2 separate regions of the Homo sapiens genome follow, and region 2 is linked to region 1. Evidence: fine-mapped expression QTL. A gene starts in region 1. The other region holds a variant in brackets. All regions are shown on one strand. Distances are from middle to middle. Region 1 holds the start of KCNA2 (potassium voltage-gated channel subfamily A member 2). Region 2 has its middle 33 kb from the start of KCNA3.

The links. PIP is the estimated chance that this variant, and not a neighbour inherited with it, causes the effect. A credible set is the group of variants that fine-mapping cannot tell apart.
Region 2: its variant is the best candidate, but not a certain one, in a credible set for the expression of KCNA2 in whole blood (TOPMed, PIP 0.63).

Annotation. Positions count from the first base shown.
Region 1 is chr1:110,601,993-110,609,992 of GRCh38, reverse strand. KCNA2 (potassium voltage-gated channel subfamily A member 2) reads left to right here and starts at 3,635. Exons shown (of 3, transcript NM_004974.4): 1 at 3,635-3,765; 2 at 4,271-4,602; 3 at 5,048-8,000. The coding sequence starts at 5,211. The coding sequence ends at 6,710.
Region 2 is chr1:110,634,860-110,649,930 of GRCh38, reverse strand. No RefSeq gene overlaps it. Among named protein-coding and RNA genes, the nearest start is that of KCNA3, 33 kb to the left of the region's middle. RefSeq lists an enhancer at 15,009-15,071. The variant C/A (reference allele first, on the strand shown) is at 11,588.

The DNA.
Region 1 (8,000 bases):
CTGTCCATTCTTTATAGCTAATTTTGTCCTTACTACCCTGTAAAGTAGCTTTGCTCTCCCATTCGACCAACTAGGAAACGAACAGTAGGAGGCTCAGAGAGTGTCAGTAACTTGCTCAAGTTCATACAGCTAGCAAGTGTTAGTGCCGGGAATACGGCCTGTGTTCTTTTCCTATACAGCACTGCCAAACCAAGGTACTGACAGACACTTTTCAGGGCAGAAGCCCTGAAATGTGCCTAAACAACTGTTATGATGGTTCTTTTTTTTCCCCCTTCTTTAGTTAATTTCTTTTTTTGTCATTGTTCACATTTAAGTTTAAAGGATAGAGACAGGACAACATACCCCTGAGGCCAAGTCACAAAATAGAAGCAGAGGTCAGAGGAAGATCTCAAAGAGGGAAATGAAATTCAAGAGCTGCTCATTCCACCTGCACAGTGTGGTGTGGGGGCTAAGGGCACATGTCCTAGAATCACAAAGACCTAATTCCAGTCCTAGAGTCACCATTTATTAACCTCAGGCAGGTGATTTCACCTCTCACTGCCTCCATTTCCTTTCCAATGAAATGGTACTAATGTATACATTGACTTCTAGGGCTGTGAGAATTAAATGTTGCCCTGGGTAAGAAGTGCTTAGCACAGGGTCTGACACATGGTAAGCCCATGTCACCAATTATGACGATTGATTTTCCTTCAAGGGCTTTTCTCTGTCCACAGCTTCTGTTTTCAAGAAGGAAGGCAAAGGAAATGTATACATATGATCAGATGGATAGAGTATCTGACTTTGGCCACACAGGATTATCTGACTTTAAATGACACGAGAACCCAGTGTGCCAAATAGGAGAAACAGAGCCCCTTGGTGCTGGTCAGGGGAGGCTTTCAGAAGGAGTATATAGGGAAGGGAACTGGAGGTCAATTTGGTAGAGGGGTGGGAATGGTGAGATCTCAAGGAAAGTAAAGGGCGGGGCAATCTGGGAAGCAGAGGGAATGGGGCAACAAGGACCTGGTGATTGGGAGCCTAGAGAAACACCCCAGAGCTAAGCTGGAAGCTAAGAGCTATGAGGAGAGTTTCACAAGGAAGCAGAGCAGCGAAATCATCATGCATTCAGTGTCTGCTGGATGCTAAACTCATTCAACAATTAAAACCTCACCACACCCTTAGGGGCATCCTGATTTTTCAGAGGAGGGCACTGGTGCCCAGAGAAGTGAAATAACTTATCTAGTAACTGTTAGGGAGTTACGTTTCCATCTGACTGCCTCCAAAACACCCAAGCCGTTCACTGACTGGGACACTAACAGGCCAGGTTCAAGGTGCTCTAAACCATACCAGCCCTTCTCTATAGTCATCTGTCATCCTTTGGGCCCACGGAGGTCACTGCCCTCCCAGACCACCCCCTGCAGCTCTAGGCAGGCTCCCAGTCTTCAACCACACCTCACAGACTACCACGATGAAACGCCAGAATCCGGAGTCCCGCTTCATGGGCTTTCAGGGCTCTCCCCACGAGGTACACGCATAGAGAGGAGGGTTTCCCGGCCGGAGGGTAGGGGGGAGGGCCCAGTGGGGACTTCCTGGTGCTAGAGCCCATCTGAATCCAGAGCTCCGTGTCTACCGCAGTCTTATCTCAAGGAACCACCACTGTTTGGCACACCTGTCTAGGTGACCCTGACAGGGACCTGGAGAACAGAACTAGCAGGGGCTTGAGGCTGTCGTCTGCCTCCCAAAAGCACCCTGGACCTTCTCGGATGCCCTATCTAGGCAGAAAGTAGGCTGTGCCTCCCACACACATTTCCCGAAAGCAAAGGGCATCCTCGTCTGCCCACCTAGGGTGCTGTAAGCTGCACTCCTAAGTTCAGAGCCCTGTGGGCCACCTGGCTTTGCAAGTTCTGCCAGAGGGCCCGTTTTGTGAGTAGCTGACCATTCCCAAGGGCAGCGGCGTGTCCCCCAGCCTTCCCTGCCCGGGCCCTGGGGGAGGGAGTCGGGGAGTGGAGAGGGCCAGCCCTGCAGTGCTGCCTGTTCCTGCGGCTCCTCTCGGTGGGGGCGAACACAGCAGAAGAGTTTCTGCCACACTGCGGACCGCACCTGCTGCATTTCCCTGCGAAGCCAAATCTTTGCTGGGTAACAGGGAGGTGGGAAGCCGATCTGGAGAAGGGGTCGCGCTGGCGGGAGAAAGGGCAAGAAAGGGGTCTGCAGATCCTGTCTGGAGGCACCACAATAATAGCAACACGTCTCTCCCGGGGCTGGATCCCGCTGTGGGCCTGGGGTAGCTGCTATTGATTATCTCCTCCTTGCCTACTTCATTACGTTGGCAGGAGCCTCTCACCAGTGCCCCTCAACTTCTGCCCTCCCCCATCTCCCCGGCCCGGCAGCACCCAGCTGAGCTCTCCTGGAGGTTCTGGTTAGTAAGTCGGGCTCTGCCAAAGAATGTTTTCCTCGCGGGGCGGGGGCTGAGGCCCGGGGGCCCAACGAGGTGACGAGCTCGGTGGCGGCGGAGGGCAGCTTGTCGCCCCGGCCCCGGCCCCGGCCCCCGCCGGCCCCTTTAATTCGAGTTCGCCGTCGAGCCAGGTGCGGCGCTGCGTGGCGCGGTGCGGCTGCGGGCGGCGGCCGGGAGCTCCGTACGCGCCGCCCGCGGGACTGCAGAGCCGGCTCCCGGCTGGCCGCCCGCACCCCGCCGCCGCCCGCTGCCGGGGTTCTGCCGGCGCTGGCCGTAACCTAGGAACATGGAGGCCCCGGTGCCCATCCGGAAGGGTAAATCCGTGTCGGGGCGTTGCGCGGCGCGTGCTGCCTTCCCTGCCCGGCTGCGGCGCCCAGAGGGGCTGCGGGGCACCCGGCGGCGCAGCCTGCAGCGCAGCAGGCTTGGGCTGAGTCCGCGGCGGCAAGCCCTTGCCGACCACTGCCGTCTGCTCGGCAGGTCCCAGACCGGGGAGATCAAGGGGAACTTGCACCCTGCTCAAGAAGAGTGCACAGAATGGGCTCGGGACCCTCTGGGGTTTGCGTGGCGCGGGGCGGAGGGCACGGAGAGGAGCTGGTGGGTGGTGGGAAGTGCAGCTGGCAGCATAACCATGTCTGGTAAATAGCGCGGGTTGGTAGGACCTGAACCACTTGGGACGGCCGGGCTGCATTCGCCTCTTCGGCACAGAATAACAAACGGCTTTGCTGCAGAGAGGGCTTTCCCCTTCGCTGGGGCCGTGGGCTGCCGCCGAGCCCCCGCGCTTAAAAGGAAGCTGAGATCTGGGGCGGCAGCCTGGCGCAGGCTACTCCCCACCCCCAGAGATCAGGTTCCGGGATTTTGGGTTGGACACTGAGCCTCGGCGGTCCCTCGGCTGGACGCCGGGGGCTTAAGAGCTGAACTGCGCTTGGGCCCGCAGCAGGAGCCGACCGCGCGGGCAGGAGGGGGTTAAGGTGGCGCTAGCGGCCGCGGCCAGCGGGAGGGTCTGGTCCTCTGCGCGGAGGCGAGCGCTGAGTGCGCCGAACGGAATCCCGGCCGGAGCCCGGGGCGATGGGGAGAGGGCCCAGACCCCTCCCCGCCCTGGGGCCGGCGGGATTGGGTCGGCAGGGGGCCAGTCCGGAAGCCGGCTTCCTCCAGGCTCCCCCTCTCGCTGCTGCCAAGCCGCCTCGCAGCTAGGCAGGCGGAGCGTTTATTCTGTGCTCCCTGCCGAGGAGATGTGAGGGATTTTCTCTTGGGGGAGAAATCAGTGGTCGAGCGCCTGCCCAGCTCAAATGCCACCCGGCTCAGAGGGAGGCCTGCGGCCCAGGGATCCCGGAGGGAGAGTAAGTTCATCCAGTTTTCGTACAGTGCAGACTTTGTTGTGTGGGGTCTCCCTAGATGCGCTCTGAAGGAGTGTGTGTGCTGGGGGGTGGGGTGCTTCTTTTCCAGGACTGGCTGAGGTCAGAGCTTGTAGACAGGCTGCAGTGAGCTAAGCCCTCCTCTTGGGAGCTGCTGTGTCCTGACATGTGGGGGTAGGAGTGCTTCTTCCAGAGTCCTTCCTGAGAGCAGCTGGGGACTAGCAACCTGGATCAACCCAGGGAGGCCCCTGGAGAAGGCAGGCCCAGCCAAGCCTGAGTCTTGCTCCCTGGGAGAAAATGCTTCAAGCTGATGGGAAGCCTGCCCAGAAGAGGCAAGGAGGCTGAGGGATAGTCCTCAGGCCTGGCATCAGAATAGAGGATGGGCATGGGGGCCTGTTACCTCCCATGAGGGAAGCTGCCAGACCCTCCTAAATCTTGGCACCAGCTGGTTCAAATGCCCTGGTTCCACCTTGCTGCTGTTTTTTTCCAGGCAACGTCACACCTCCTGAGGACAGCCAGGACTCCAGCTTTTGCTGAGCTTTGCATCTTGCCTCCTTCCTTCAAAAGGCTCCAGGCCCATGCTCGGCTGTCTTCAAGTCCCGCATGCCCCTGGCCAGGCACCTCACCGCCCCTCCAGCCCAGCCCAATCCTAGAGCTCACCTCCAGGACCCAGAGTCTGCCCTTCTGCCCAGAATGACTCACCATTATTTCTAGCTCGAGTGAGAAGACGTGATGAGGAGTTGGGCTGCCTGTTGGTGCATCTCAGATTCCTGCAGCATCTGATCAGCTCTGCAAGGAAGAGAGCTTCACGTCTCTGGTCAGGTAAATCAATCTATCATTTAATAACAGCCTTGTGTAGAATCACTGGGGTGGAGGCCAATGAGAAAGACCCAGGCCCAAGCTCCCCAACCATGAATACCTCCCTGGGTATGAGTATCTGAGACATTAGTGCAGCACCTGGGAGAGGGTCCACTTTTAACCTATTAGCATGGGGTTATGCTCCATGAAGCCTGTGTGCTACAAGCGGGCCTGTACCAGCCACCTTCCCCCAATGCAGGGCATTCCAGAGGTTCCTGGAGAGATTGCTACCTGCTCCCCCTGATCCCCAGACAAGTTACAAGGTGAAAGTAAATTTTGCTTTGTCGTTGTGGTGGTGGTGATCATGTGTCTGAACTCTTGGCTGAGAGATGGGAGACAAAAAGTGGCAACCCAGGTCAGGCTGCCAATGCTGAGTAGCCTCATGTCAATAACTGCCTCTGTCTTTCAGCCAAGCGAGGCTGTCTCTCCAGCTCTCAGAGAGCTCTCGGGGCTCTCCTGCAGGAGACCAGGCCAATGCTCCTGTGCTTCCTGGGGCCAGTAGCAGCACCCTGAGCTCCCTGCCACCAGGCAGCTGAAAGGCATAGCGTGAGGTGCTTCTCTCAGTCCCAATTATGACAGTGGCCACCGGAGACCCAGCAGACGAGGCTGCTGCCCTCCCTGGGCACCCACAGGACACCTATGACCCAGAGGCAGACCACGAGTGCTGTGAGAGGGTGGTGATCAACATCTCAGGGCTGCGGTTTGAGACCCAGCTAAAGACCTTAGCCCAGTTTCCAGAGACCCTCTTAGGGGACCCAAAGAAACGAATGAGGTACTTTGACCCCCTCCGAAATGAGTACTTTTTCGATCGGAACCGCCCTAGCTTTGATGCCATTTTGTACTACTACCAGTCAGGGGGCCGATTGAGGCGACCTGTGAATGTGCCCTTAGATATATTCTCTGAAGAAATTCGGTTTTATGAGCTGGGAGAAGAAGCGATGGAGATGTTTCGGGAAGATGAAGGCTACATCAAGGAGGAAGAGCGTCCTCTGCCTGAAAATGAGTTTCAGAGACAAGTGTGGCTTCTCTTTGAATACCCAGAGAGCTCAGGGCCTGCCAGGATTATAGCTATTGTGTCTGTCATGGTGATTCTGATCTCAATTGTCAGCTTCTGTCTGGAAACATTGCCCATCTTCCGGGATGAGAATGAAGACATGCATGGTAGTGGGGTGACCTTCCACACCTATTCCAACAGCACCATCGGGTACCAGCAGTCCACTTCCTTCACAGACCCTTTCTTCATTGTAGAGACACTCTGCATCATCTGGTTCTCCTTTGAATTCTTGGTGAGGTTCTTTGCCTGTCCCAGCAAAGCCGGCTTCTTCACCAACATCATGAACATCATTGACATTGTGGCCATCATCCCCTACTTCATCACCCTGGGGACAGAGTTGGCTGAGAAGCCAGAGGACGCTCAGCAAGGCCAGCAGGCCATGTCACTGGCCATCCTCCGTGTCATCCGGTTGGTAAGAGTCTTTAGGATTTTCAAGTTGTCCAGACACTCCAAAGGTCTCCAGATTCTAGGTCAGACCCTCAAAGCCAGCATGAGAGAATTGGGCCTCCTGATATTCTTTCTCTTCATAGGGGTCATCCTTTTCTCTAGTGCTGTGTATTTTGCAGAGGCCGATGAGCGAGAGTCCCAGTTCCCCAGCATCCCAGATGCCTTCTGGTGGGCAGTCGTCTCCATGACAACTGTAGGCTATGGAGACATGGTTCCGACTACCATTGGGGGAAAGATAGTGGGTTCCCTATGTGCGATTGCAGGTGTGTTAACTATTGCCTTACCGGTCCCTGTCATTGTGTCCAATTTCAACTACTTCTACCACCGGGAGACAGAGGGAGAGGAACAGGCCCAATACTTGCAAGTGACAAGCTGTCCAAAGATCCCATCCTCCCCTGACCTAAAGAAAAGTAGAAGTGCCTCTACCATTAGTAAGTCTGATTACATGGAGATCCAGGAGGGTGTAAATAACAGTAATGAGGACTTTAGAGAGGAAAACTTGAAAACAGCCAACTGTACCTTGGCTAACACAAACTATGTGAATATTACCAAAATGTTAACTGATGTCTGATTGAAACCTATTACCGTACTCACAGCTCAATGGAACTAATGCAGATGTTGCATAATAGCCTGCATTGTAGTCAGTGTGTTCTACAGTGTGTATCTGGTTCTGCATGGAAAGCAATAGTTGTGCAAGTGACTTTTGATCTTTTGACTTTTGATTTAGAACACAGAATATCTATCATGGCTTTCATGCACATCCTCATCACCGGCTTATGAACTTCCAAAGACGGGAGTCACCTATCAAGCTAGGATTTCAGATAGACACGTTGAGGCCACCTCATATCCCATACACAGTGCACCATATCAGTGCCATCATTCCTTCCTAATGAAATGCACACAACATCCAAGAGATGCACTCCCCTCCCCACCATCCCACCACCTTATTTGAGCCCACCTGCCCTTTCACAGAGGAACACAATCATGGCTTAGCTTTAAATAGCTGGTGTTTGTTCAAAAGGTCATACTCATTTTTGCATTGAAAAGAACACACAGTCCTGTGTGTTGGAATTACTTTCTGTGTCACAGGCTGGAGTTTGTGAATTGCAGTTGCCAAGTAGATGCTCTGGAGGCTTGTGTTTCATAACGGAAAATGCTGCATTCTGCTTTTTCTCTGCAGTGTCGATGTGAGGGAAGCCCGGGGGAGGGACAGTTAGTATGACCGAATATGAGTTGTCAAGTTTCACATTTGTTCCCTTAGGCCTATGGGGAGAAGCTAACAAACCAACAGACCTCTAAGCCTCTGATTTCACCATTTTTGCAGGCTCCAGGGTCACAAAAACATGTCTGGTTTCTTACTGGAGTTTGCAGACATCTGCTTTCCCACTGATGTGGCCCAGCTACACTGACACTGCAGTGAAATTTACCAGTGATGCAATAGAGCTGCATGGGTGTTTGTTGCATGAATCTCAATATTTAAAACACAGGAGATAACCTATTTTCCTAGTAGCCTACACAGTGTTAATATTTAGAGTATTAATAGGCTTGGAATGGTCTTGAACTAGGGGTTTTTTTCCCATCAGAAGGCAAAAATCCCTCCATCAGGGGAAAAAAAATAGACTATTTGGAATGGAACTAAAACTTCTGGCCCCCCAGCCTACCTATCCCTGTTCTTCTAAACAGGAACGCAGACCTCTGCAAAGCCAGAAGAGTAAGCGGGGAAGGCAGCATCTGAACACCTCACATGACTGCACCTTAGGAATTAACCTAGTCGCGGGCATGACTGTACAGTGGACCAGGGCATCTGGTCCTGATGACAGGCAGGTCTGTGGATCCAGTGTATATAAATATATATCGAGTA
Region 2 (15,071 bases), 36 kb before region 1:
CACTCAAAGCCAAACTTCTTAATAAGAAGTTGTCTCTACTTCCTGACCCCTCATTTATTTGACTTTCGGCTACAGTGTTATTCCTCTGTAATCTGGCTTTGGTCTCCACTTCTACACTGAACATTTCCTTAATACTAGTTTCTTTCTCATACATCAATTGTCAACCTCACCAACTCTGTAGAATTTGACACTGTTGATCCCTCCCTCCTTCTTGGCTTTTGTGACATTTTCTCTCAGTCACCTTCACTGACTTTTCTTTCTCTTATCACTTTTTAAATACTGCTGCTCCCCAAGATTCTGATCTCAAGCCTCACTTTTTCTGAGTCAACACTTTCCCTAGGTAATCTCATCCAATATCCTAGTTTTAACTACTTCCACAGATTTTTATCTCCAGCCCAGAGCTACAACCTGAGTGCTAGTCTTACCATATTTCAGGTACCAGTCACCTTCTCAGCCAATCATTTCTGCCCTGTTTACCTTTGAACCTGCCAACCCATAATCTAGAAGGGACAATCCTAAAACCCATGTCAGCCCATTCTCTGTCCACAGGTGGTCACCTAACTCAACTGGGCCAGGTGATTCTCTCTCCTTGGAATTTTGATTGAAACTTGGGGAGTTAGAAGTAGAAACAATTAGGCGAAGAGCTATGATGTTTTAGCAAGTTGAGCCAAAGTCAGCATCATAACAATCCTAAGTCCATGTAATTTATATTCTGGTGAAGTAGTAACTAAGCCTAGCAGAGAAGCAAGGAGAAGAATGAAACACAAAGCAAAACAATCACACTGCCCCAGTGAAAGATCAAAAGTAGCTACAGACTGTTTTCCAACACATGGGAGGCCCAACTCTACTCCCTGTCACTGGGTTCTATGAGATTCTTCTAAACCCTCCAACAAGCCATGATTGCATTAGCCAGCTTGATGGAGTCTTCTGACCCACACAGACAACTTATCTTTTGTGTACCAATCTCTTTGCCATAAATATCCTTTTGGATGGTCTCGAAACTATTCATGATACCTCAAACCCAACATGTCCAAGACAGAACAACTCATTTCCCACACTCAGCAATGTCATCCCAACTGTATTTCTTGTCTTTGGTAATCAAACCACCTCTCCTTAATGCTACTGTTTGGAAATCTGGGGACCAACTAATCTCAAACTTCTCCCTCACTCTTCACAGCTATTAAATTCTTGATGCAACTTTAGCTGCCTTCTTCACCTCTGAATTATTTTTGTATCTTATGATTTCTTGCCTATGTTACTAGAGTAGTCTTGTGAATTTTTCATACTGCAGACGAAGTGATCTCTGAGTCACAAATATGCTAATAACTCTCACAGCTAAAGTACTTCAATGACTCCTCCTTTATCCTTTTAGAATAAAGCCTAAACCTTTTAGTATGACATCCAAGGACCTTCACGGTCCAGCTTCTGTCTACCTTTCTAATTTCATCAATTATCACTCTCCAGTATGTCCTCCCTGCTCCAGTCACCCTGAATTACTGTGAATCCCTTATATACAGTATGCCCCCCCATATACCTTCACATTTGCTGATCTCTCTGCCCAGAAATATCATCACAACTTTATTTTTCTTCCCCACTTCACTCACCCACATTGTTCTTCTACTCAGCTGGATGATAGCTACTTATCTTCCAAGACTTACATTTTCTCCAGGAAGATTTCAGTTAAGTATCTATCTGATATTTTATATCAAGAGCCCTCCATCAAAGAACTTGACACAAAATATAACCATCTACTCTTTTGTTTCTTTTATAAAACTGTGAGTAACTTGAGAGCTGACTCTGTGTCCTTGTAATCTCTGTATTCACAGCGCTTGGTATATAGCGGATGCTCAATAAACATTTGTTGAATAAATAAGACACTGAGAAGATGTAACTTCTATCCTCAAATATCTCATAGAAATAGTGGGAAATGAGAACACCTATGATTATGGAACAGTGACAAGTTCTATACCAGGTAGGCTCAGGGAACTATGAGAAAGAAGGAAGATAAAATTAACTTAGCTCAGGGGCCTTCAGGAAATAAGAGAGGGATTTAGGCTTGATGACTAAGTAGGAAGGACTAAGCGAGGCCAATGAGATGGGGAAGGGTTTCTAGCTCCTTGTAGCCGGTGCCGGTCTACTTATCTTTTATAAGTTGCAAGAAATGTTGCACATTGATATACCACTGTTAAGAGGCTCTCAACACTAGATTGGTAAAACAAATGCAGTCTGAGGAAACTAGCTAATTGTCTCAGCAGTGGAAAACCCTTAAAAACGTTTCAAACTATTGCAGCACTTAAAACTATTTTGGGTTCAACATGACCTCAAATATGTCTCTCTCTTGGAAATTTTCCCTCTTAATTTTGAAACATGAGTAGTGTTGAGAAAATTAATCTGTACTTTCTAGTCAACCACACTTACCTCATCCAGTTGCCGTTTTAGAAGTGTTGTTTATTATTCCAGGAAACTTCAAGGTCCTTATTGTAAGCTTTTTGACTTAGAAACAGGAAATCAGATTTTATCTCAAGTGTAATTTTAAACCACAGTATTTAAACATTTCCAGTAGTTTCCAGACTTCATCAGAGGGCTACTTCAATCTCCAACCCTCTGAAGTATTCCACTCAGATAAGAACTCCTGTGTTTAAACTGTACTGGATTTGCCCATTTATATCTCTGTAGATCCCGGTCAGAATGTCTTCCAGTTCAAAAACATACACACATTCTCTCATTCTTACGGAATCTACTGGAAATTAACATACACAAGGCTGTGGGCATCAAACTTTAGATCATTATAATCATCAAGAACAATTGACTAACTTAGAGTAAGATTTTCATTGCTGATAATTCTAGGCAAAATTCTTACCAAAACTGAAAACATGAATTTTCCTAACTGCATTAATAGATAAAAATGTCAATTATTGGAAAGCAAACCACTAACTCCAAAGGTTGCAAATGGTCTCAATCCTTATTCATCATAATTCCTTTAGGTCTATTAAGGAGAAATTTAGGGAGCTAAAGAGTAAGATATAATTAATGTAACTTGGTGTTGGTGATTTATTCAGTGACAAATTATAAGGCTGCTACTATAACATGCTCCCATGAGCTTAAAAGGAACAAAGCTCTTCTGTTTTAAGGATAGGTTATGATAGCAATTCTCAGATAATTCTCATTTCATCTTTTCCCACTGGTTATCTGTCAACTGAGGAGCCTTTAATCTGGAATCCTATTGTGTAGTTGCTATTTGAAAAGTCTTTTAACATCTCCATGACCCCTAATGCTGCAGAAAAGCTTTGCATTTTGAAAGTGTATTCTTGTCCATCTTAGCCACACTCTCCCATCTCCCATCTGAGTTGTTACTGGTTGATTGAATTGGCATCTGCAAAGGCTGAAGGTGCCACTAAAAGGGCAATTCCCCCTCCACTGATGTCAACATATCTTGATCTGTGGGTCTTTTTGAGAGATGATACAGACCTTGCTTAATAATCTAATAGAAGTGACAATTTTTCAGTACTAGCCTAGAGATAATCCTGCCTGCAAAAAGAAGATGGATTACACGAATAGAAGTCTAAATCCAATTGTGATGGCCTTTCTAATAAAATGAGCATATACAGATGTCCTACCATGCTCTTTGAGTCATGGCTAATCCAGAATTTAAAGAGGAAGTCTACTTCACATTTCTTTCTCTAATTTCACATATTTCTTCACAGTTTGCCCAGTCCTCCAAAGAGAAGCTCACAGTCACTGAGATTTTTAAATCACATGACTCGTAATTGTGAGTCACTGGCTGATTAAGCCTATAAAGTAGCTAAACCTCTCATCTTCTAACATGAGCCTTTAATTCCTCCATTCGGAAGTGAGACTGCAGCTGTTGTATATCACCATTATTGTTAGTTCTTAAAAACATGTCAAAGGTTTTGTTTTGCTTTGTTTAAAAAAAAAGACTTAAATAAGATATTGACAGACATTTAGAGAGGGAAGCAATGCTTTCAAACAGGAGTTAAAATTTCAAGTTAATGTTTTAATAATTACGTCTTCTTTTGGCTCAGTTTCACTTGGATCTTAGTCCCACAATCATGTCTTCAAAATATTCTGAATAAATCACCACCCAAAAAAAAAAGCCTTAACTCTCATTCAGGAAAATGATGAGTTTTACTGGGTTCTAAAAATGTTTCAAGAACAAAATTAAGTGAGTAATCACATTTGACTTATAAAGCAAGAGTAGAGCCTGAATACAATGCAGTCAGGCACCTCTGAGCTTTCTGGCCAAAATAATAAAAATAAAAATAAAAAAAGTATATAGCCTTTCCTGACTTCTCTTGTTAAAATCTCAGAAAAAAGAAGTCTTCTGGCTTCCACTGGTGATTCTTAACCTCATTCTCTCATGAGGGCCCAGTTCTATTAGTATTGGGTAATTCCAATTGGGTAATAACTAAGAAATTGGAGAGCCCCTTCCACTCAACCCACACCTTTGTTTAAAAAGTGTCTTTAGGAAGAGCTGGCCCCAAAAACCTTAAACCTTGCTACTCAATGGTCCTCAGGGACCAGCAGCAGCAGCAGCATCTAAGAGCTTGATAGAAATGTAGAATCTCAGGCTCCACCCCCAACTCACTGAATTAGAATCTGAAGTGTAATAAACTTCCCAGGTGATTTATATGCACATGAAAGTTTAAGTAGCACTACTACCAGATCATTACTGTGTAACCTCACTCAGAGATTTTCCACCTGTGAGCCCTTTGAATGAATAAACAATGTAAGTTCAAATTAAGCTAAAATAATCTGCCTTGCTCCTATATAAAATTTGTTTTTAGAAAGTCCCAAAACATGATAAAGAATGAATATTTTCATTATTGAACACTAAGAATTTAAAAGCTACTCCTTCATTCTACTCTTCAATGTAGTCTAAATGTTTCATTCCATACAAAATAACCCCTCCTAACCTCCTCCACCGGGCCTATCCCTCAACAGCTATAAAACCTTGGTAAAACCTCACATTTGGAATAGTCTTCATGGATGTTAATAAGCTACTAAAATAATAATTCAAATGCCTATAACAAATGACGACAGACACTCTTTTAAGTCCTTGTCTATATTAATTTATTGGATCCTTAAAACAACCCTAAAAGATCAGTTCTATGTTTGTTTTTGTTTTTGAGACAGAATCTTGCTCTGTCACCCAGGCTCTTACTCTATCACCCAGGCTGGAGTGCAATGGAGCAATCTCAACTCACTGTACTCTCCGCCTCCCAGGCTCAAGCAATTCTCCTGCCTCAGCCTCCCAAGTAGCTGGGATTACAGGGACACGCCACTGCGCCCAGCTAAATTTTTTTGTATTTTTAGTAGAGATGGGGTTTCACCATGTTGCCCAGGCTGGTCTTGGACTCCTGACCTCAAGTGATCCACCCGCCTCAGCCTCCCAAAGTGCCCGGAATGCCATATTCAACATTTATATGGTATATTTTACAAGGATGGGGTTTCAGCCCTGTCAACTGAGGTTCTTCATATATGCAGGCCAAGCCCTTCATACATCTTAAACAATATCCTAAAGAACACATATGTCTCCCAAAGTGATTGCTCTGGAGGGCTTCCTCACTTCCTCACTGGAAAGCCATGTTTTAGTTATTAGTATTCTGGTCAGACAGAAAACCTCCCTTGCAGAGCTGCAGTGGAGGGGAATGCAGCTTTGTGCACTATAAATAGTAATTTTATTAAAATGTAGAAAAATTGTTGAGAAAGGAAAAAGAGGTGGGGGCAGAGGGTTGCCATGGCAACTCGACCATTCCTTCAGTTTTGAAAGCGTGGGGAAGACTACAGAATAGTAAATAAAGAAGAGGAAATAGAGGAAGTCGGAATGGCACATGATCACAAACGGAATGAGACAGCTCAGACAGCCTAGTCTCAAACTGAGTGCTGAGCTAAGAGGCAGAGGGTGGGCCTCCCAAGGGAAGAGGGGATGCCTTTCTTCAGAGAGCAAGAAGACTGGCAGAGTGAAATCTTTGTCATCAGCTTTACCTCATGGCTCAGCCACAGAGGCCACCAAACAACACAGCCCCCAACAAATGATTTATGGATAAATGAATATGGAAGCAAGAATCCTCCTGGTAGCCTCCCAAGAACTCCCTCCCTGCCCCCACCTCCATACATATTTTTAGATATTGGTTCTAGAATCTCCATTCTTCATCCCACTCCTCACTCCTGAATGTTGATTGACTCCAGGCAGATCGAGAAAGATCAGGACACACCAGAAATCCACCCATTTACAAGACATTAGATTAATTCACATGCTACAAATTCAAAATATATTATTAAAGGAAACTAGGATAAAAGGATAACCTTAATTCAGCACTTTACAGGTTACTGATCATTACACATTATCCCATGGGATGCATGGAACAGCCCCGGCAATCTGGGATTACTCCACCTTACAGTAGCCCAGGAAACTCTGTGCACAATTCAGACTGAAACAGAGCAACTAATATCTCCTGCATGCAAGAATTTTCCATCTCTCCTGGAGAATGGAATTACTATTGAAGGTTTAGAGGACTTTCAGTCTGTCTTGATCACACATTGTGACAGCTTAAACAATGCACTATCCCCATTAACACTTCAGTATTTGGGGGTGGGGGGTGAGGTGGGGTGGGAGGTGAGGGAGGAGGTGAGAGAGATCCATGTAAATACACATAAGCAGTTCTATGTCATTTCTGTTAATGGAGGGTAGATAAAGAAAAGATCATCCAGGAGTCATGTTTAAGGACTTTGTAATGCATCAAATATATTGGATTGTGTGGAGGCTACTCGCAGACATTTGGGGTAATTTTTAAAGCTTTAAAGGGATAGGAAGAGAAGCTAGTTAAAGAGAAAGCAGGCTGGGATTTAAAAATGTCCCATAGAACCTACAGATTACCGTGCCAGAGCAGCAACCATATTGCCTACATCTGGGAAACAGTGTTGACTCTAGTTCCCTCCCCCAGCTGGACAAACCTCATGCACAGGGCAGAGCTCAAGAACGCTCACATCATGGCTGATGGGATGGGCATTGCCAGAGAGAGAGCAGCTTCACTGGGCAGAGTCAGGGCCTCCTCAGACTGGGAGAAAATGAAAAATGAGATCAAAGGTTCTGGGTGAGGTTCTGGGTGAGGTTCTGGTGATCCACTTGATCACCAGATCCAGGGACGTTGTTCCTGAAGAGCATTCCCTGAAGCTGAACACTTGGGAAGTAAATTTAAAATGAATGAAAGGAGCTAAGTAGTCAGCATATGAAGTTTATTGCCCAAAATGTGTTACAGATTACAATGTAAACAGGTTCAAATCACCTTCAGGTGAATTCACATAGAACAAATCCAAAATAAAATATTAAAGAAAACTAGTATAAAAAGATAACCTCTGGCCGGGCACCATGGCTCACACCTGTAATCCCAGCACTTTGGGAGGCCAAGGCAAGTGAATCACCTGAGGTCAGGAGTTTAAGACCAGCTTGGTCATGGTGAAATTCCATCTCTACAAAAATACAAAAATTAGCCAGGCATGATGGTGGGTGCCTATAATCCCAGCTACTTGGGAGGCTGAGGCAGGAGAATCACTTGAACCCGGGAGGCAGAGGTTGCAGTGAGCCAACATAGTGCCATTGCACTCCAGCCTGGGTGACAGAGCGAGACTCCATCTCAAAAAAAAAAAAGATAACCTCTATTTAGCACATTCCAGGTTACCAAGTACTTAAATACATCTCCATAGACATTCAAAAAGGTAGACATTAGGCGATCATCACAGAGAAGAAAATTGAGACTTGGAGAAGACAGAACATGAATCCGAACTGTACACCAAATATTTTGGTCTGATATTCTCAGTATTCTTTGTGTTTACTGAGTTTGGGTGTGGGTAGGATAGAGAGTCCCTGATTAGGATGACTTAGCTACAAAGTCAAAATTAAAGAAATCTGTGGTTCTGGACTGTATATTTGCAGTTTTGACTGAAGGGTTTCATAAAGAGCACCAATGTTCACAACTGAGAATTGTGAAACCACAAGTTGCAGGGTTTCCTGTATTTAAGTCGACCATGCAGTGGTACCATGGAACCCATTTCTGCCAGTCATGAAATGCTGCCTTTCTCCTAGCATTATTACCATCTTCCCTCCCTACACACACACACACACACACACACACACACACACACACTCACAAATGCACTAAACCTCTCCTTTCTCTTCCCTTTTCTCTTTTGTTTAGTCACACACGATCTTTCACTTCTACTTCAGTTGCATTTATCCACTCAATGCAAGTATTTGAGCATCCATCCAGCTAAATCTCAGGGCCCAGAATGCCAAACTGTTCCCTCCAAGACTGCACTACCGACAGCCGAGAAAAGCTAATAGTGATGATAGTTAATACTTACTCAGCACCTACTCACAATGCACAAGGCACTGGGATAATAACTCCTTTGCATTCAGATTCCTCAATAGCTCACTCAGTCCTTACAACAATGCAAAAACCTTGAAAAGTGTTACTATCCCCATTATACGATGAGAATGTGAAGCAGAGGGGTCATAACTCACAGGAAGTCGTGTGGCTAGTGATGGTGCAGTTGGAGAAGTGCGTGCTTCTCCTCCTTCATAACCATTGCCTACCCAACATTTTAAATATATTTGATATTGTCTAAATTGTTTTCCTTAAGAATAAATGTTTTATATTGACATATTTTAACTGACTCATATTTGGTTCATAATCAGGCAATTCTATTTTATAAACAGTCTCAATCTTTGTTTTCTTACTGATCCATTTATATACACCCTCTCACACTCCGCATTTCTGCTACTAATACCAATTTCTTTTTTTCTTTTTTCTTTCTTTCTTTTTTTTTTTTTTTTTTTTTTTGAGACAGTATCTCGCCCTGTCACCCAGGCTGGAATGCAATGGCACCATCTTGGCACACTCCAACCTCCACCTCCCAGGTTCAAATGATTCTCCTGCCTCAGCCTCACGAGTAGCTGGGATTACAGGAGCCCGCCACCACGTCCAGCTAATTTTTGTATTTTTAGTAGAGACAGAGTTTCACCATGTTAGCCAGGCTGGTCTCCAACTCGTGAGTTTGTGATCTGCCCGCCTCGGCTTCCCAAAGTGCTGGGATTACAGGCGTGAGCCACCTCACCTGGACCAACTTCTTAATATTCTGGCTTCTCGCAGCCATCTAGCCTCTTTCTCTAGTTCTCTTTTCTGATCTTAATTCATGCATTAGGAAGATAGGCAGGACTGAATGCGCTTGGTATCTCATCTCTTCCCTTAATTCTACAAAGCCTCTCAGGTCTTCCCACAACCCTTTGCTCTACCATGCTCTCTCACTCTGCCCATCCCAGAACTCTATGCAGATGGCTCTTCCAGGTCACCAGCAGCCCAAAAGTAGCCTTTCCTTGGGTCTTACCTCCTTGACTTCTCCATCTTTTGGCATCCATCACACTGAACTGCCTTGCTTCTCCTCAGTAGCAATTATTCCTCTTCAGTCTTCTTCAAGGCTCCTCTCAGCTGCCTTTCCCCTCCATGTCCTGTCTCCCAGGCTCAGCCCTTAGTCCTTCTTACTTCTCCTATAATTTCTTCTCAGGCCATCATATACATTCCCATAGTTTAACTCTATTTGCCACTAACTCCCAAATCCATATCTCTATTCTTAGCCTCTCTCGCTTTAGCTCCTCCATTTCCAACAATCTGCCAGTCATTGCCACCAGGATGACTCACTGGAACTTCCCATCCAGACTGTCCAAGTAAAGCATTTTCTTTCTCCAGTGATTTGGCCCTTTCTTCTGACTTCCCTATCTCTAGCAGATACCATCATGCAGATAGTCACCCAGGCAAAACAAACAAACAAATGAACAAAAGTTGTCGTCTTTCATCCCTCCATCTTCCTCACTTACTGTAGTCTACTAGTTTTAAAATATAAAAAGATTCTACTCCTGTTCAGAAAGCCTTCAGTGGCCTTCCATTATCTGTTGATGAAGTGCCAACTCACCCTGCCTTTGCATCCCACACTTTCCAGTGATAGCCCAACACCCTTTCTCACCCAAGCTTCCTCCAACCAAAATAGACTCTGTCCTGTTCTCAAATATATGCCAAGCTTTTCTGCCTTTCTGTTCTGATGTATGCTGTCCCTGATATCTTCTTCTCCAACACTCAAAAGGACTTTCCTCTCTTCTTACAACTTAGGGTCTTCCTGAGTATTTGTGATATTTATCATGTTCTACTCCTTGTTTTTATCTGTCTGTTCCACCTCCTGAGGTAGAGGATGGGCTCCATACTTGAAGCACCTGTTTCCCCACCACACTTACATACCTTGTGCACAGCAGATCCTCATTATACTTTTGATGAATTGAATTCAGTTGGGGCTCAGCAGCTGTGTAAGAAGAACCAAGTTTCCAGGACCCTCTCCTCTCCTGAAACCAGGCAGATATTCTATTACTTGTCCCACTTTCTCATCTTAAAAATGGGCCTCTGTTTTTCCCTTATGGTCTGAACATCTACCGTTTACCTCTGCAAGCAGTGAAAAGTGGTCAGATCTTTGGAACAATAGTCATAGCTACTGAGCACTGCCCATGTGCCAGACACTGTTTGAAGCGCATACATGTTTTAACTTCTTTAAACCTCTCAGCAAACTTGTGAAATAGACACTGAAATTCCCATTTTACAGATGAGGAAACTGAAGCACAGACAGGTTAAGTGGCATGTCTAAGCATAAACAGCTAGTATGGAGGGAACCAGATTCTCAGGCAGGCCCCTGGCTCCAGGGCCTATGCTCCCACCATTTTGCTATAAGGAAATGCAGATTTGAAAAGAGGAGATTTTACTTGTAGGTCTTGATGACCCCAATCCCAAAACCCAGAGCCTGGTTTGGTCTTCACAGGTTTGACCTAATGTGTACATATGTGTATCTGATTGTGAGTGTATGTGCAGTGGAATTAGGGGAGAGCCACCTGTCTTTGCACTCTGCTCTTTAGCTGGTGTTGTTGTGTTTGACGTTATTTCCCCAACACAAGCTTCCTGGAAGAAGACGGTATCTTCCATGATTTTACTCTCCCACTGGAGTCTGATCTAGCGCTTGTCATCTAGCAAGCGACCCACAAGTTTAAGGCTGAATCACATTTTCACATATAAAGTCAGTGCCCAAGCCATGTCTCTCATTTGAAGCTTCTGTTGTCTGCCCCCACTTCTCCCAGCCTCCTGACACACACCCACTCTCTCACAGAGCAGGTGCACTTCAGCAGAATGTAAGCAAATCAGTGCTGAATGTCAAAACGGATTTTACTCAATTATTAAATTGCGAGAACCAGGAGAAGAGCAAATAAATATCCCAACAAAGTTATGCTATGAAATATGTGAAACCCACCCAGATCTAATATTTAATTTAGACTCAACTGTCTCAACAGCTTTCTACCATCCCAGATTCCAGCCAAAGGCCATCAGACATGGCTTGGGGTGAAAACTCGGTAGCTATACAGGCCTAATGCAAAGACCAAGGCTGAATGATGGGCCACCCCTCAGGGACAGGTGCCCACAGGCCAGAGGCTGAAAAGCTTCTCCAAAGATGCCAATTAGCTCAAGCACAAGAACCAAAG[C/A]CTGAGCTCTGACATCTGCATAAGTCAGGCTGCTGGGAGCTTTGCCTAATGATTCTGCAAGAAGAGGGGCTCTGAACCAGCATCTGCCTCCTGCTGCCCAGCTTCCTCAGCCAGCCAGAAGGGAGATACAAGCACCACCTAGTGCTGAGGTAAGGGGACCGGTCATTGACAGCTGCTCACTGGCTGTGATGATATTTTAAGTATCAAGGCTACAGTGAATGCCGAAGAGGAGAGGGGAGGGAGAATAGAGGAGTGGAGAAGCAGCAGGGGAAATAGATTCAGAGCATGAATTCCCAGCTCATTCAACTCACCCCACTGCACCCACCAGTCCTCAGCACTGGTGTCATAGCACCATCCTCAGAGGCCAGGAGGCTGGCTTCCTGCAGCCTCCAGGCCTGGTGAGCCCTCCCTCTCCCCCAAGCTTTTTCCCAGCCTGTCTGGCAGACATGCGGCATGTACTGCTGTGCTCACGGCCAGTAGACCCCTGCTTCCCCTCCTGTAGTGGCTCTCTGAGAATAAGGATGTGTCTGCCCTTGGCTCAGCATCTCAAGCACATAAAGCAGATTCTGCTTCCAGAACCAGAAAATACATGACAGTTCAAGACACAGAACTGACTCTCTCAGTCACTCCATGCCGCTCCAGCAGAGGGCTTCTCAGGGGCCAATGGAAACCAGCCACCAAAGGCTGTCTCATCAGGCTGAGTCCAGACCACCCGAAGGGAACCCATACCACCCAGGCCCCACCCAGGGGCAGACCCAGGACCCAGGCAGGTCCTGAAGTGCTGGACCACTCTGTCACAGAGCCAAAGTATGGGTATGGGTTTAGCTGTCTCCCATGGCTGCTCAGCCTGCAGAGCCTACTGAAGGGCCTATCCAGCTACCAAGGGAGGACATGCTGCCAGTGAGCTCCAAGGAGCCCTGCAGCAGAGCAGGAAGGGGCAGGGGAATGCTCCCACCCACCATCAGCTAGGGCTGGAACTCCAACTCACTCTGAGCACACTGCAGCCTCCCAAGTGGATGTAGGTTACTCTGGATGTAGGTTACTCCAGGTGACACATTCTTTTCTACAAAATTTCTTTCCAGATCAAATCTAATTTTATTTTATTTTTATTTTATTTTACTTATTTTTGAGACACAAAATATTTTACTTATTTTTGAGACAGTGTGTTGCCCACACTGGAGTGCAGAAGTGCCATCACGGTTCACTGCAGTCTCGACCTCCCTGGGCTCAGGTAATCCTCCCACCTCAGCCTCCCAAGAAGCTGGGAATACAGGCATGGACCACCATGCCTGGCTAATTTGGGGTTTTTTTGGTTGTTGTTTTTTTGGGGTTTTTTTTTGTTTGTTTGTTTGTTTTTTTGTGGAGACAGGGTTTTGCCATGTTGCACAAGCTGGTCTCAAACTCCTGGGCTCAAGCAATCTGCCTGCCTTGGTCTCCCAAAGCACTGGGATTACAGACATGAGCTACCACACCTGGCCTCAAATTTGATTTTAATGAGCATCAAGAGAAGCTCTACACCAACACCTTTGACTTGGTCATTGGGAAGGGCCCAAGGAGTACTGCTGCATGGCCCACTTATTTCAGAGTTCTTGGTGGCTGTCCCTCCTCTGTAGTCCTGGCTACCACCAGGTCATGCAGCCCCTCTGCAGGCCCAGCATTGGTGATAGAGCTCCCAAGGCTACCTCCTCCACTGTTGGACAGCATTTCACCAGCTAAGAGTTGGTGAGCGCTCATGGTGTGCTTCCCTCCTTGCCAGCCATTTTCCAGGAGTTCTTTAACTCATGGTAAGTATTATTATTATTCTCATATTCAGATAAGGAAACTGTGGCTTAGAGAAATTGACTCCTTTCTTTAAGGTCACAATAACTTAAAATTGGCAAAGCCAGGTTACAAACCCTGGGTTCTTAACTAGAAAAGGGTTGCAAACTACAATACCTGCAGACACCTGGGAATCAGCGAAACTGTGCAAATGTAAGAAAGGTGGAGGAAGTAGCACTTGTGAAAAACCACAGTGCATCTGCTTTATTCAGAAGAGGCAGCTGCCACCCACGTACCATTTATTGTTACATGAGAGAGTAGGAACTTGGGTGATCAGATCCTCCGATTTTTAAAAAGAGGCTATCCATATAGATTTGTAAGCATAATCTCCCAATTTGTGCTGATGACTGATGCAAGTTTTTTAAATCCCAGGGCAGAGCAGGCCAACACCAAGTGGGTTGCAGACCCACATCTGTGAGCAGGATTCAGGGTGGTGCCCATTGTGACTCTACTCTAGAGTCCAAGATCTTAACCATTAGACTTTACTGTCTTAAAATATCAGCTAGCTTTATCTCTGGTGAGTCACAATTTTTCTTCCTATTATCTCCATCTATTGGCCTCAGTTCTGTCATCTAGAGCAACAGGGATTCAAAAAACACTAGCCTCCTATGCCCTTTTCTAGGCTAAACATCCCCAGCCCCATAAGCATCCCCATTTTGGCTTGGTTGCAGGACCTTTACCATGCAGGCCCCATGATTCTAGGCACGCTCCAGACACACTCCCACCAGCTCACAGGACTCCCCACATCCACTGTGGAACTAAGTCCTACCCATCATGTCTGGTCTGTGTCAAGCAGAGCAAAGCAGGCTTCTAGCCCACTAGGACTCATCTGAGACTAGAACCCAAAGTCACCTGGCCTCCTTGGCAGCTAAGAATTTGCCTTAGTTTAATTGAAGAGATACTGACCCCCCAAACCCAGTGGGAGGCTTCTTGGCCTCTGCAGTGATTGTCAATTTGTGGGAAGTGACATCCCAAACACCAGCACTTTCCCATCATTGTCCTGATGGTCCACCCCTATCCTTGCAGGGACTGTTCCAGGGTCAGCCCTTTAACACCCATGGTTTTCAGGCCCACACCTGACCGATCTTCCCTTCTGAGAAGACAGCCATGACACCAAGAATCCCTCTTCTTATAAAACAAATCTCAAGCTCCTTCCAGTATCTCTGTCTCAATGTTGAGAGATTTTCCCACGATTCATCAGACCCACTCTAAGATTCACCCCCATTTCCTGATTCTCACTGTCCAGAAAATGCCATGTGCCAGACTATGAACCTGGCTGTAGCCACCTGTGGATCAGAAAAAAAAAAAAAAAAAGGGCGATGAGTCAAAGTAAGGATCCAGAGGGTCAGAGAAGTATCCCTGGTGGCTTAGCCAAAACCTCCACACCCAACAGCTATGGGCTTCACCATCTGAGTACCTCTTTTGATTCCAGTCCCACTCTCAACTTCCCTCATGAAATGAAGAACTGCAAATACGGTAACCTGCTATGGAAACTGAGAAAAGCAAAGCAGCCTATCTTTTATTCTCGCTCTGCCTTCTGGTCCTTCCCCGGGGCCACTGGGGCTGGAGCTGAGCCGAGCAGCTGGGTTTTCCCCTGAGCAGTGACTCACAGATGTAGTTTCTCTGGCACAAATCTTCAGAACAGTCCCAGCTGGGAAGTCTTCCT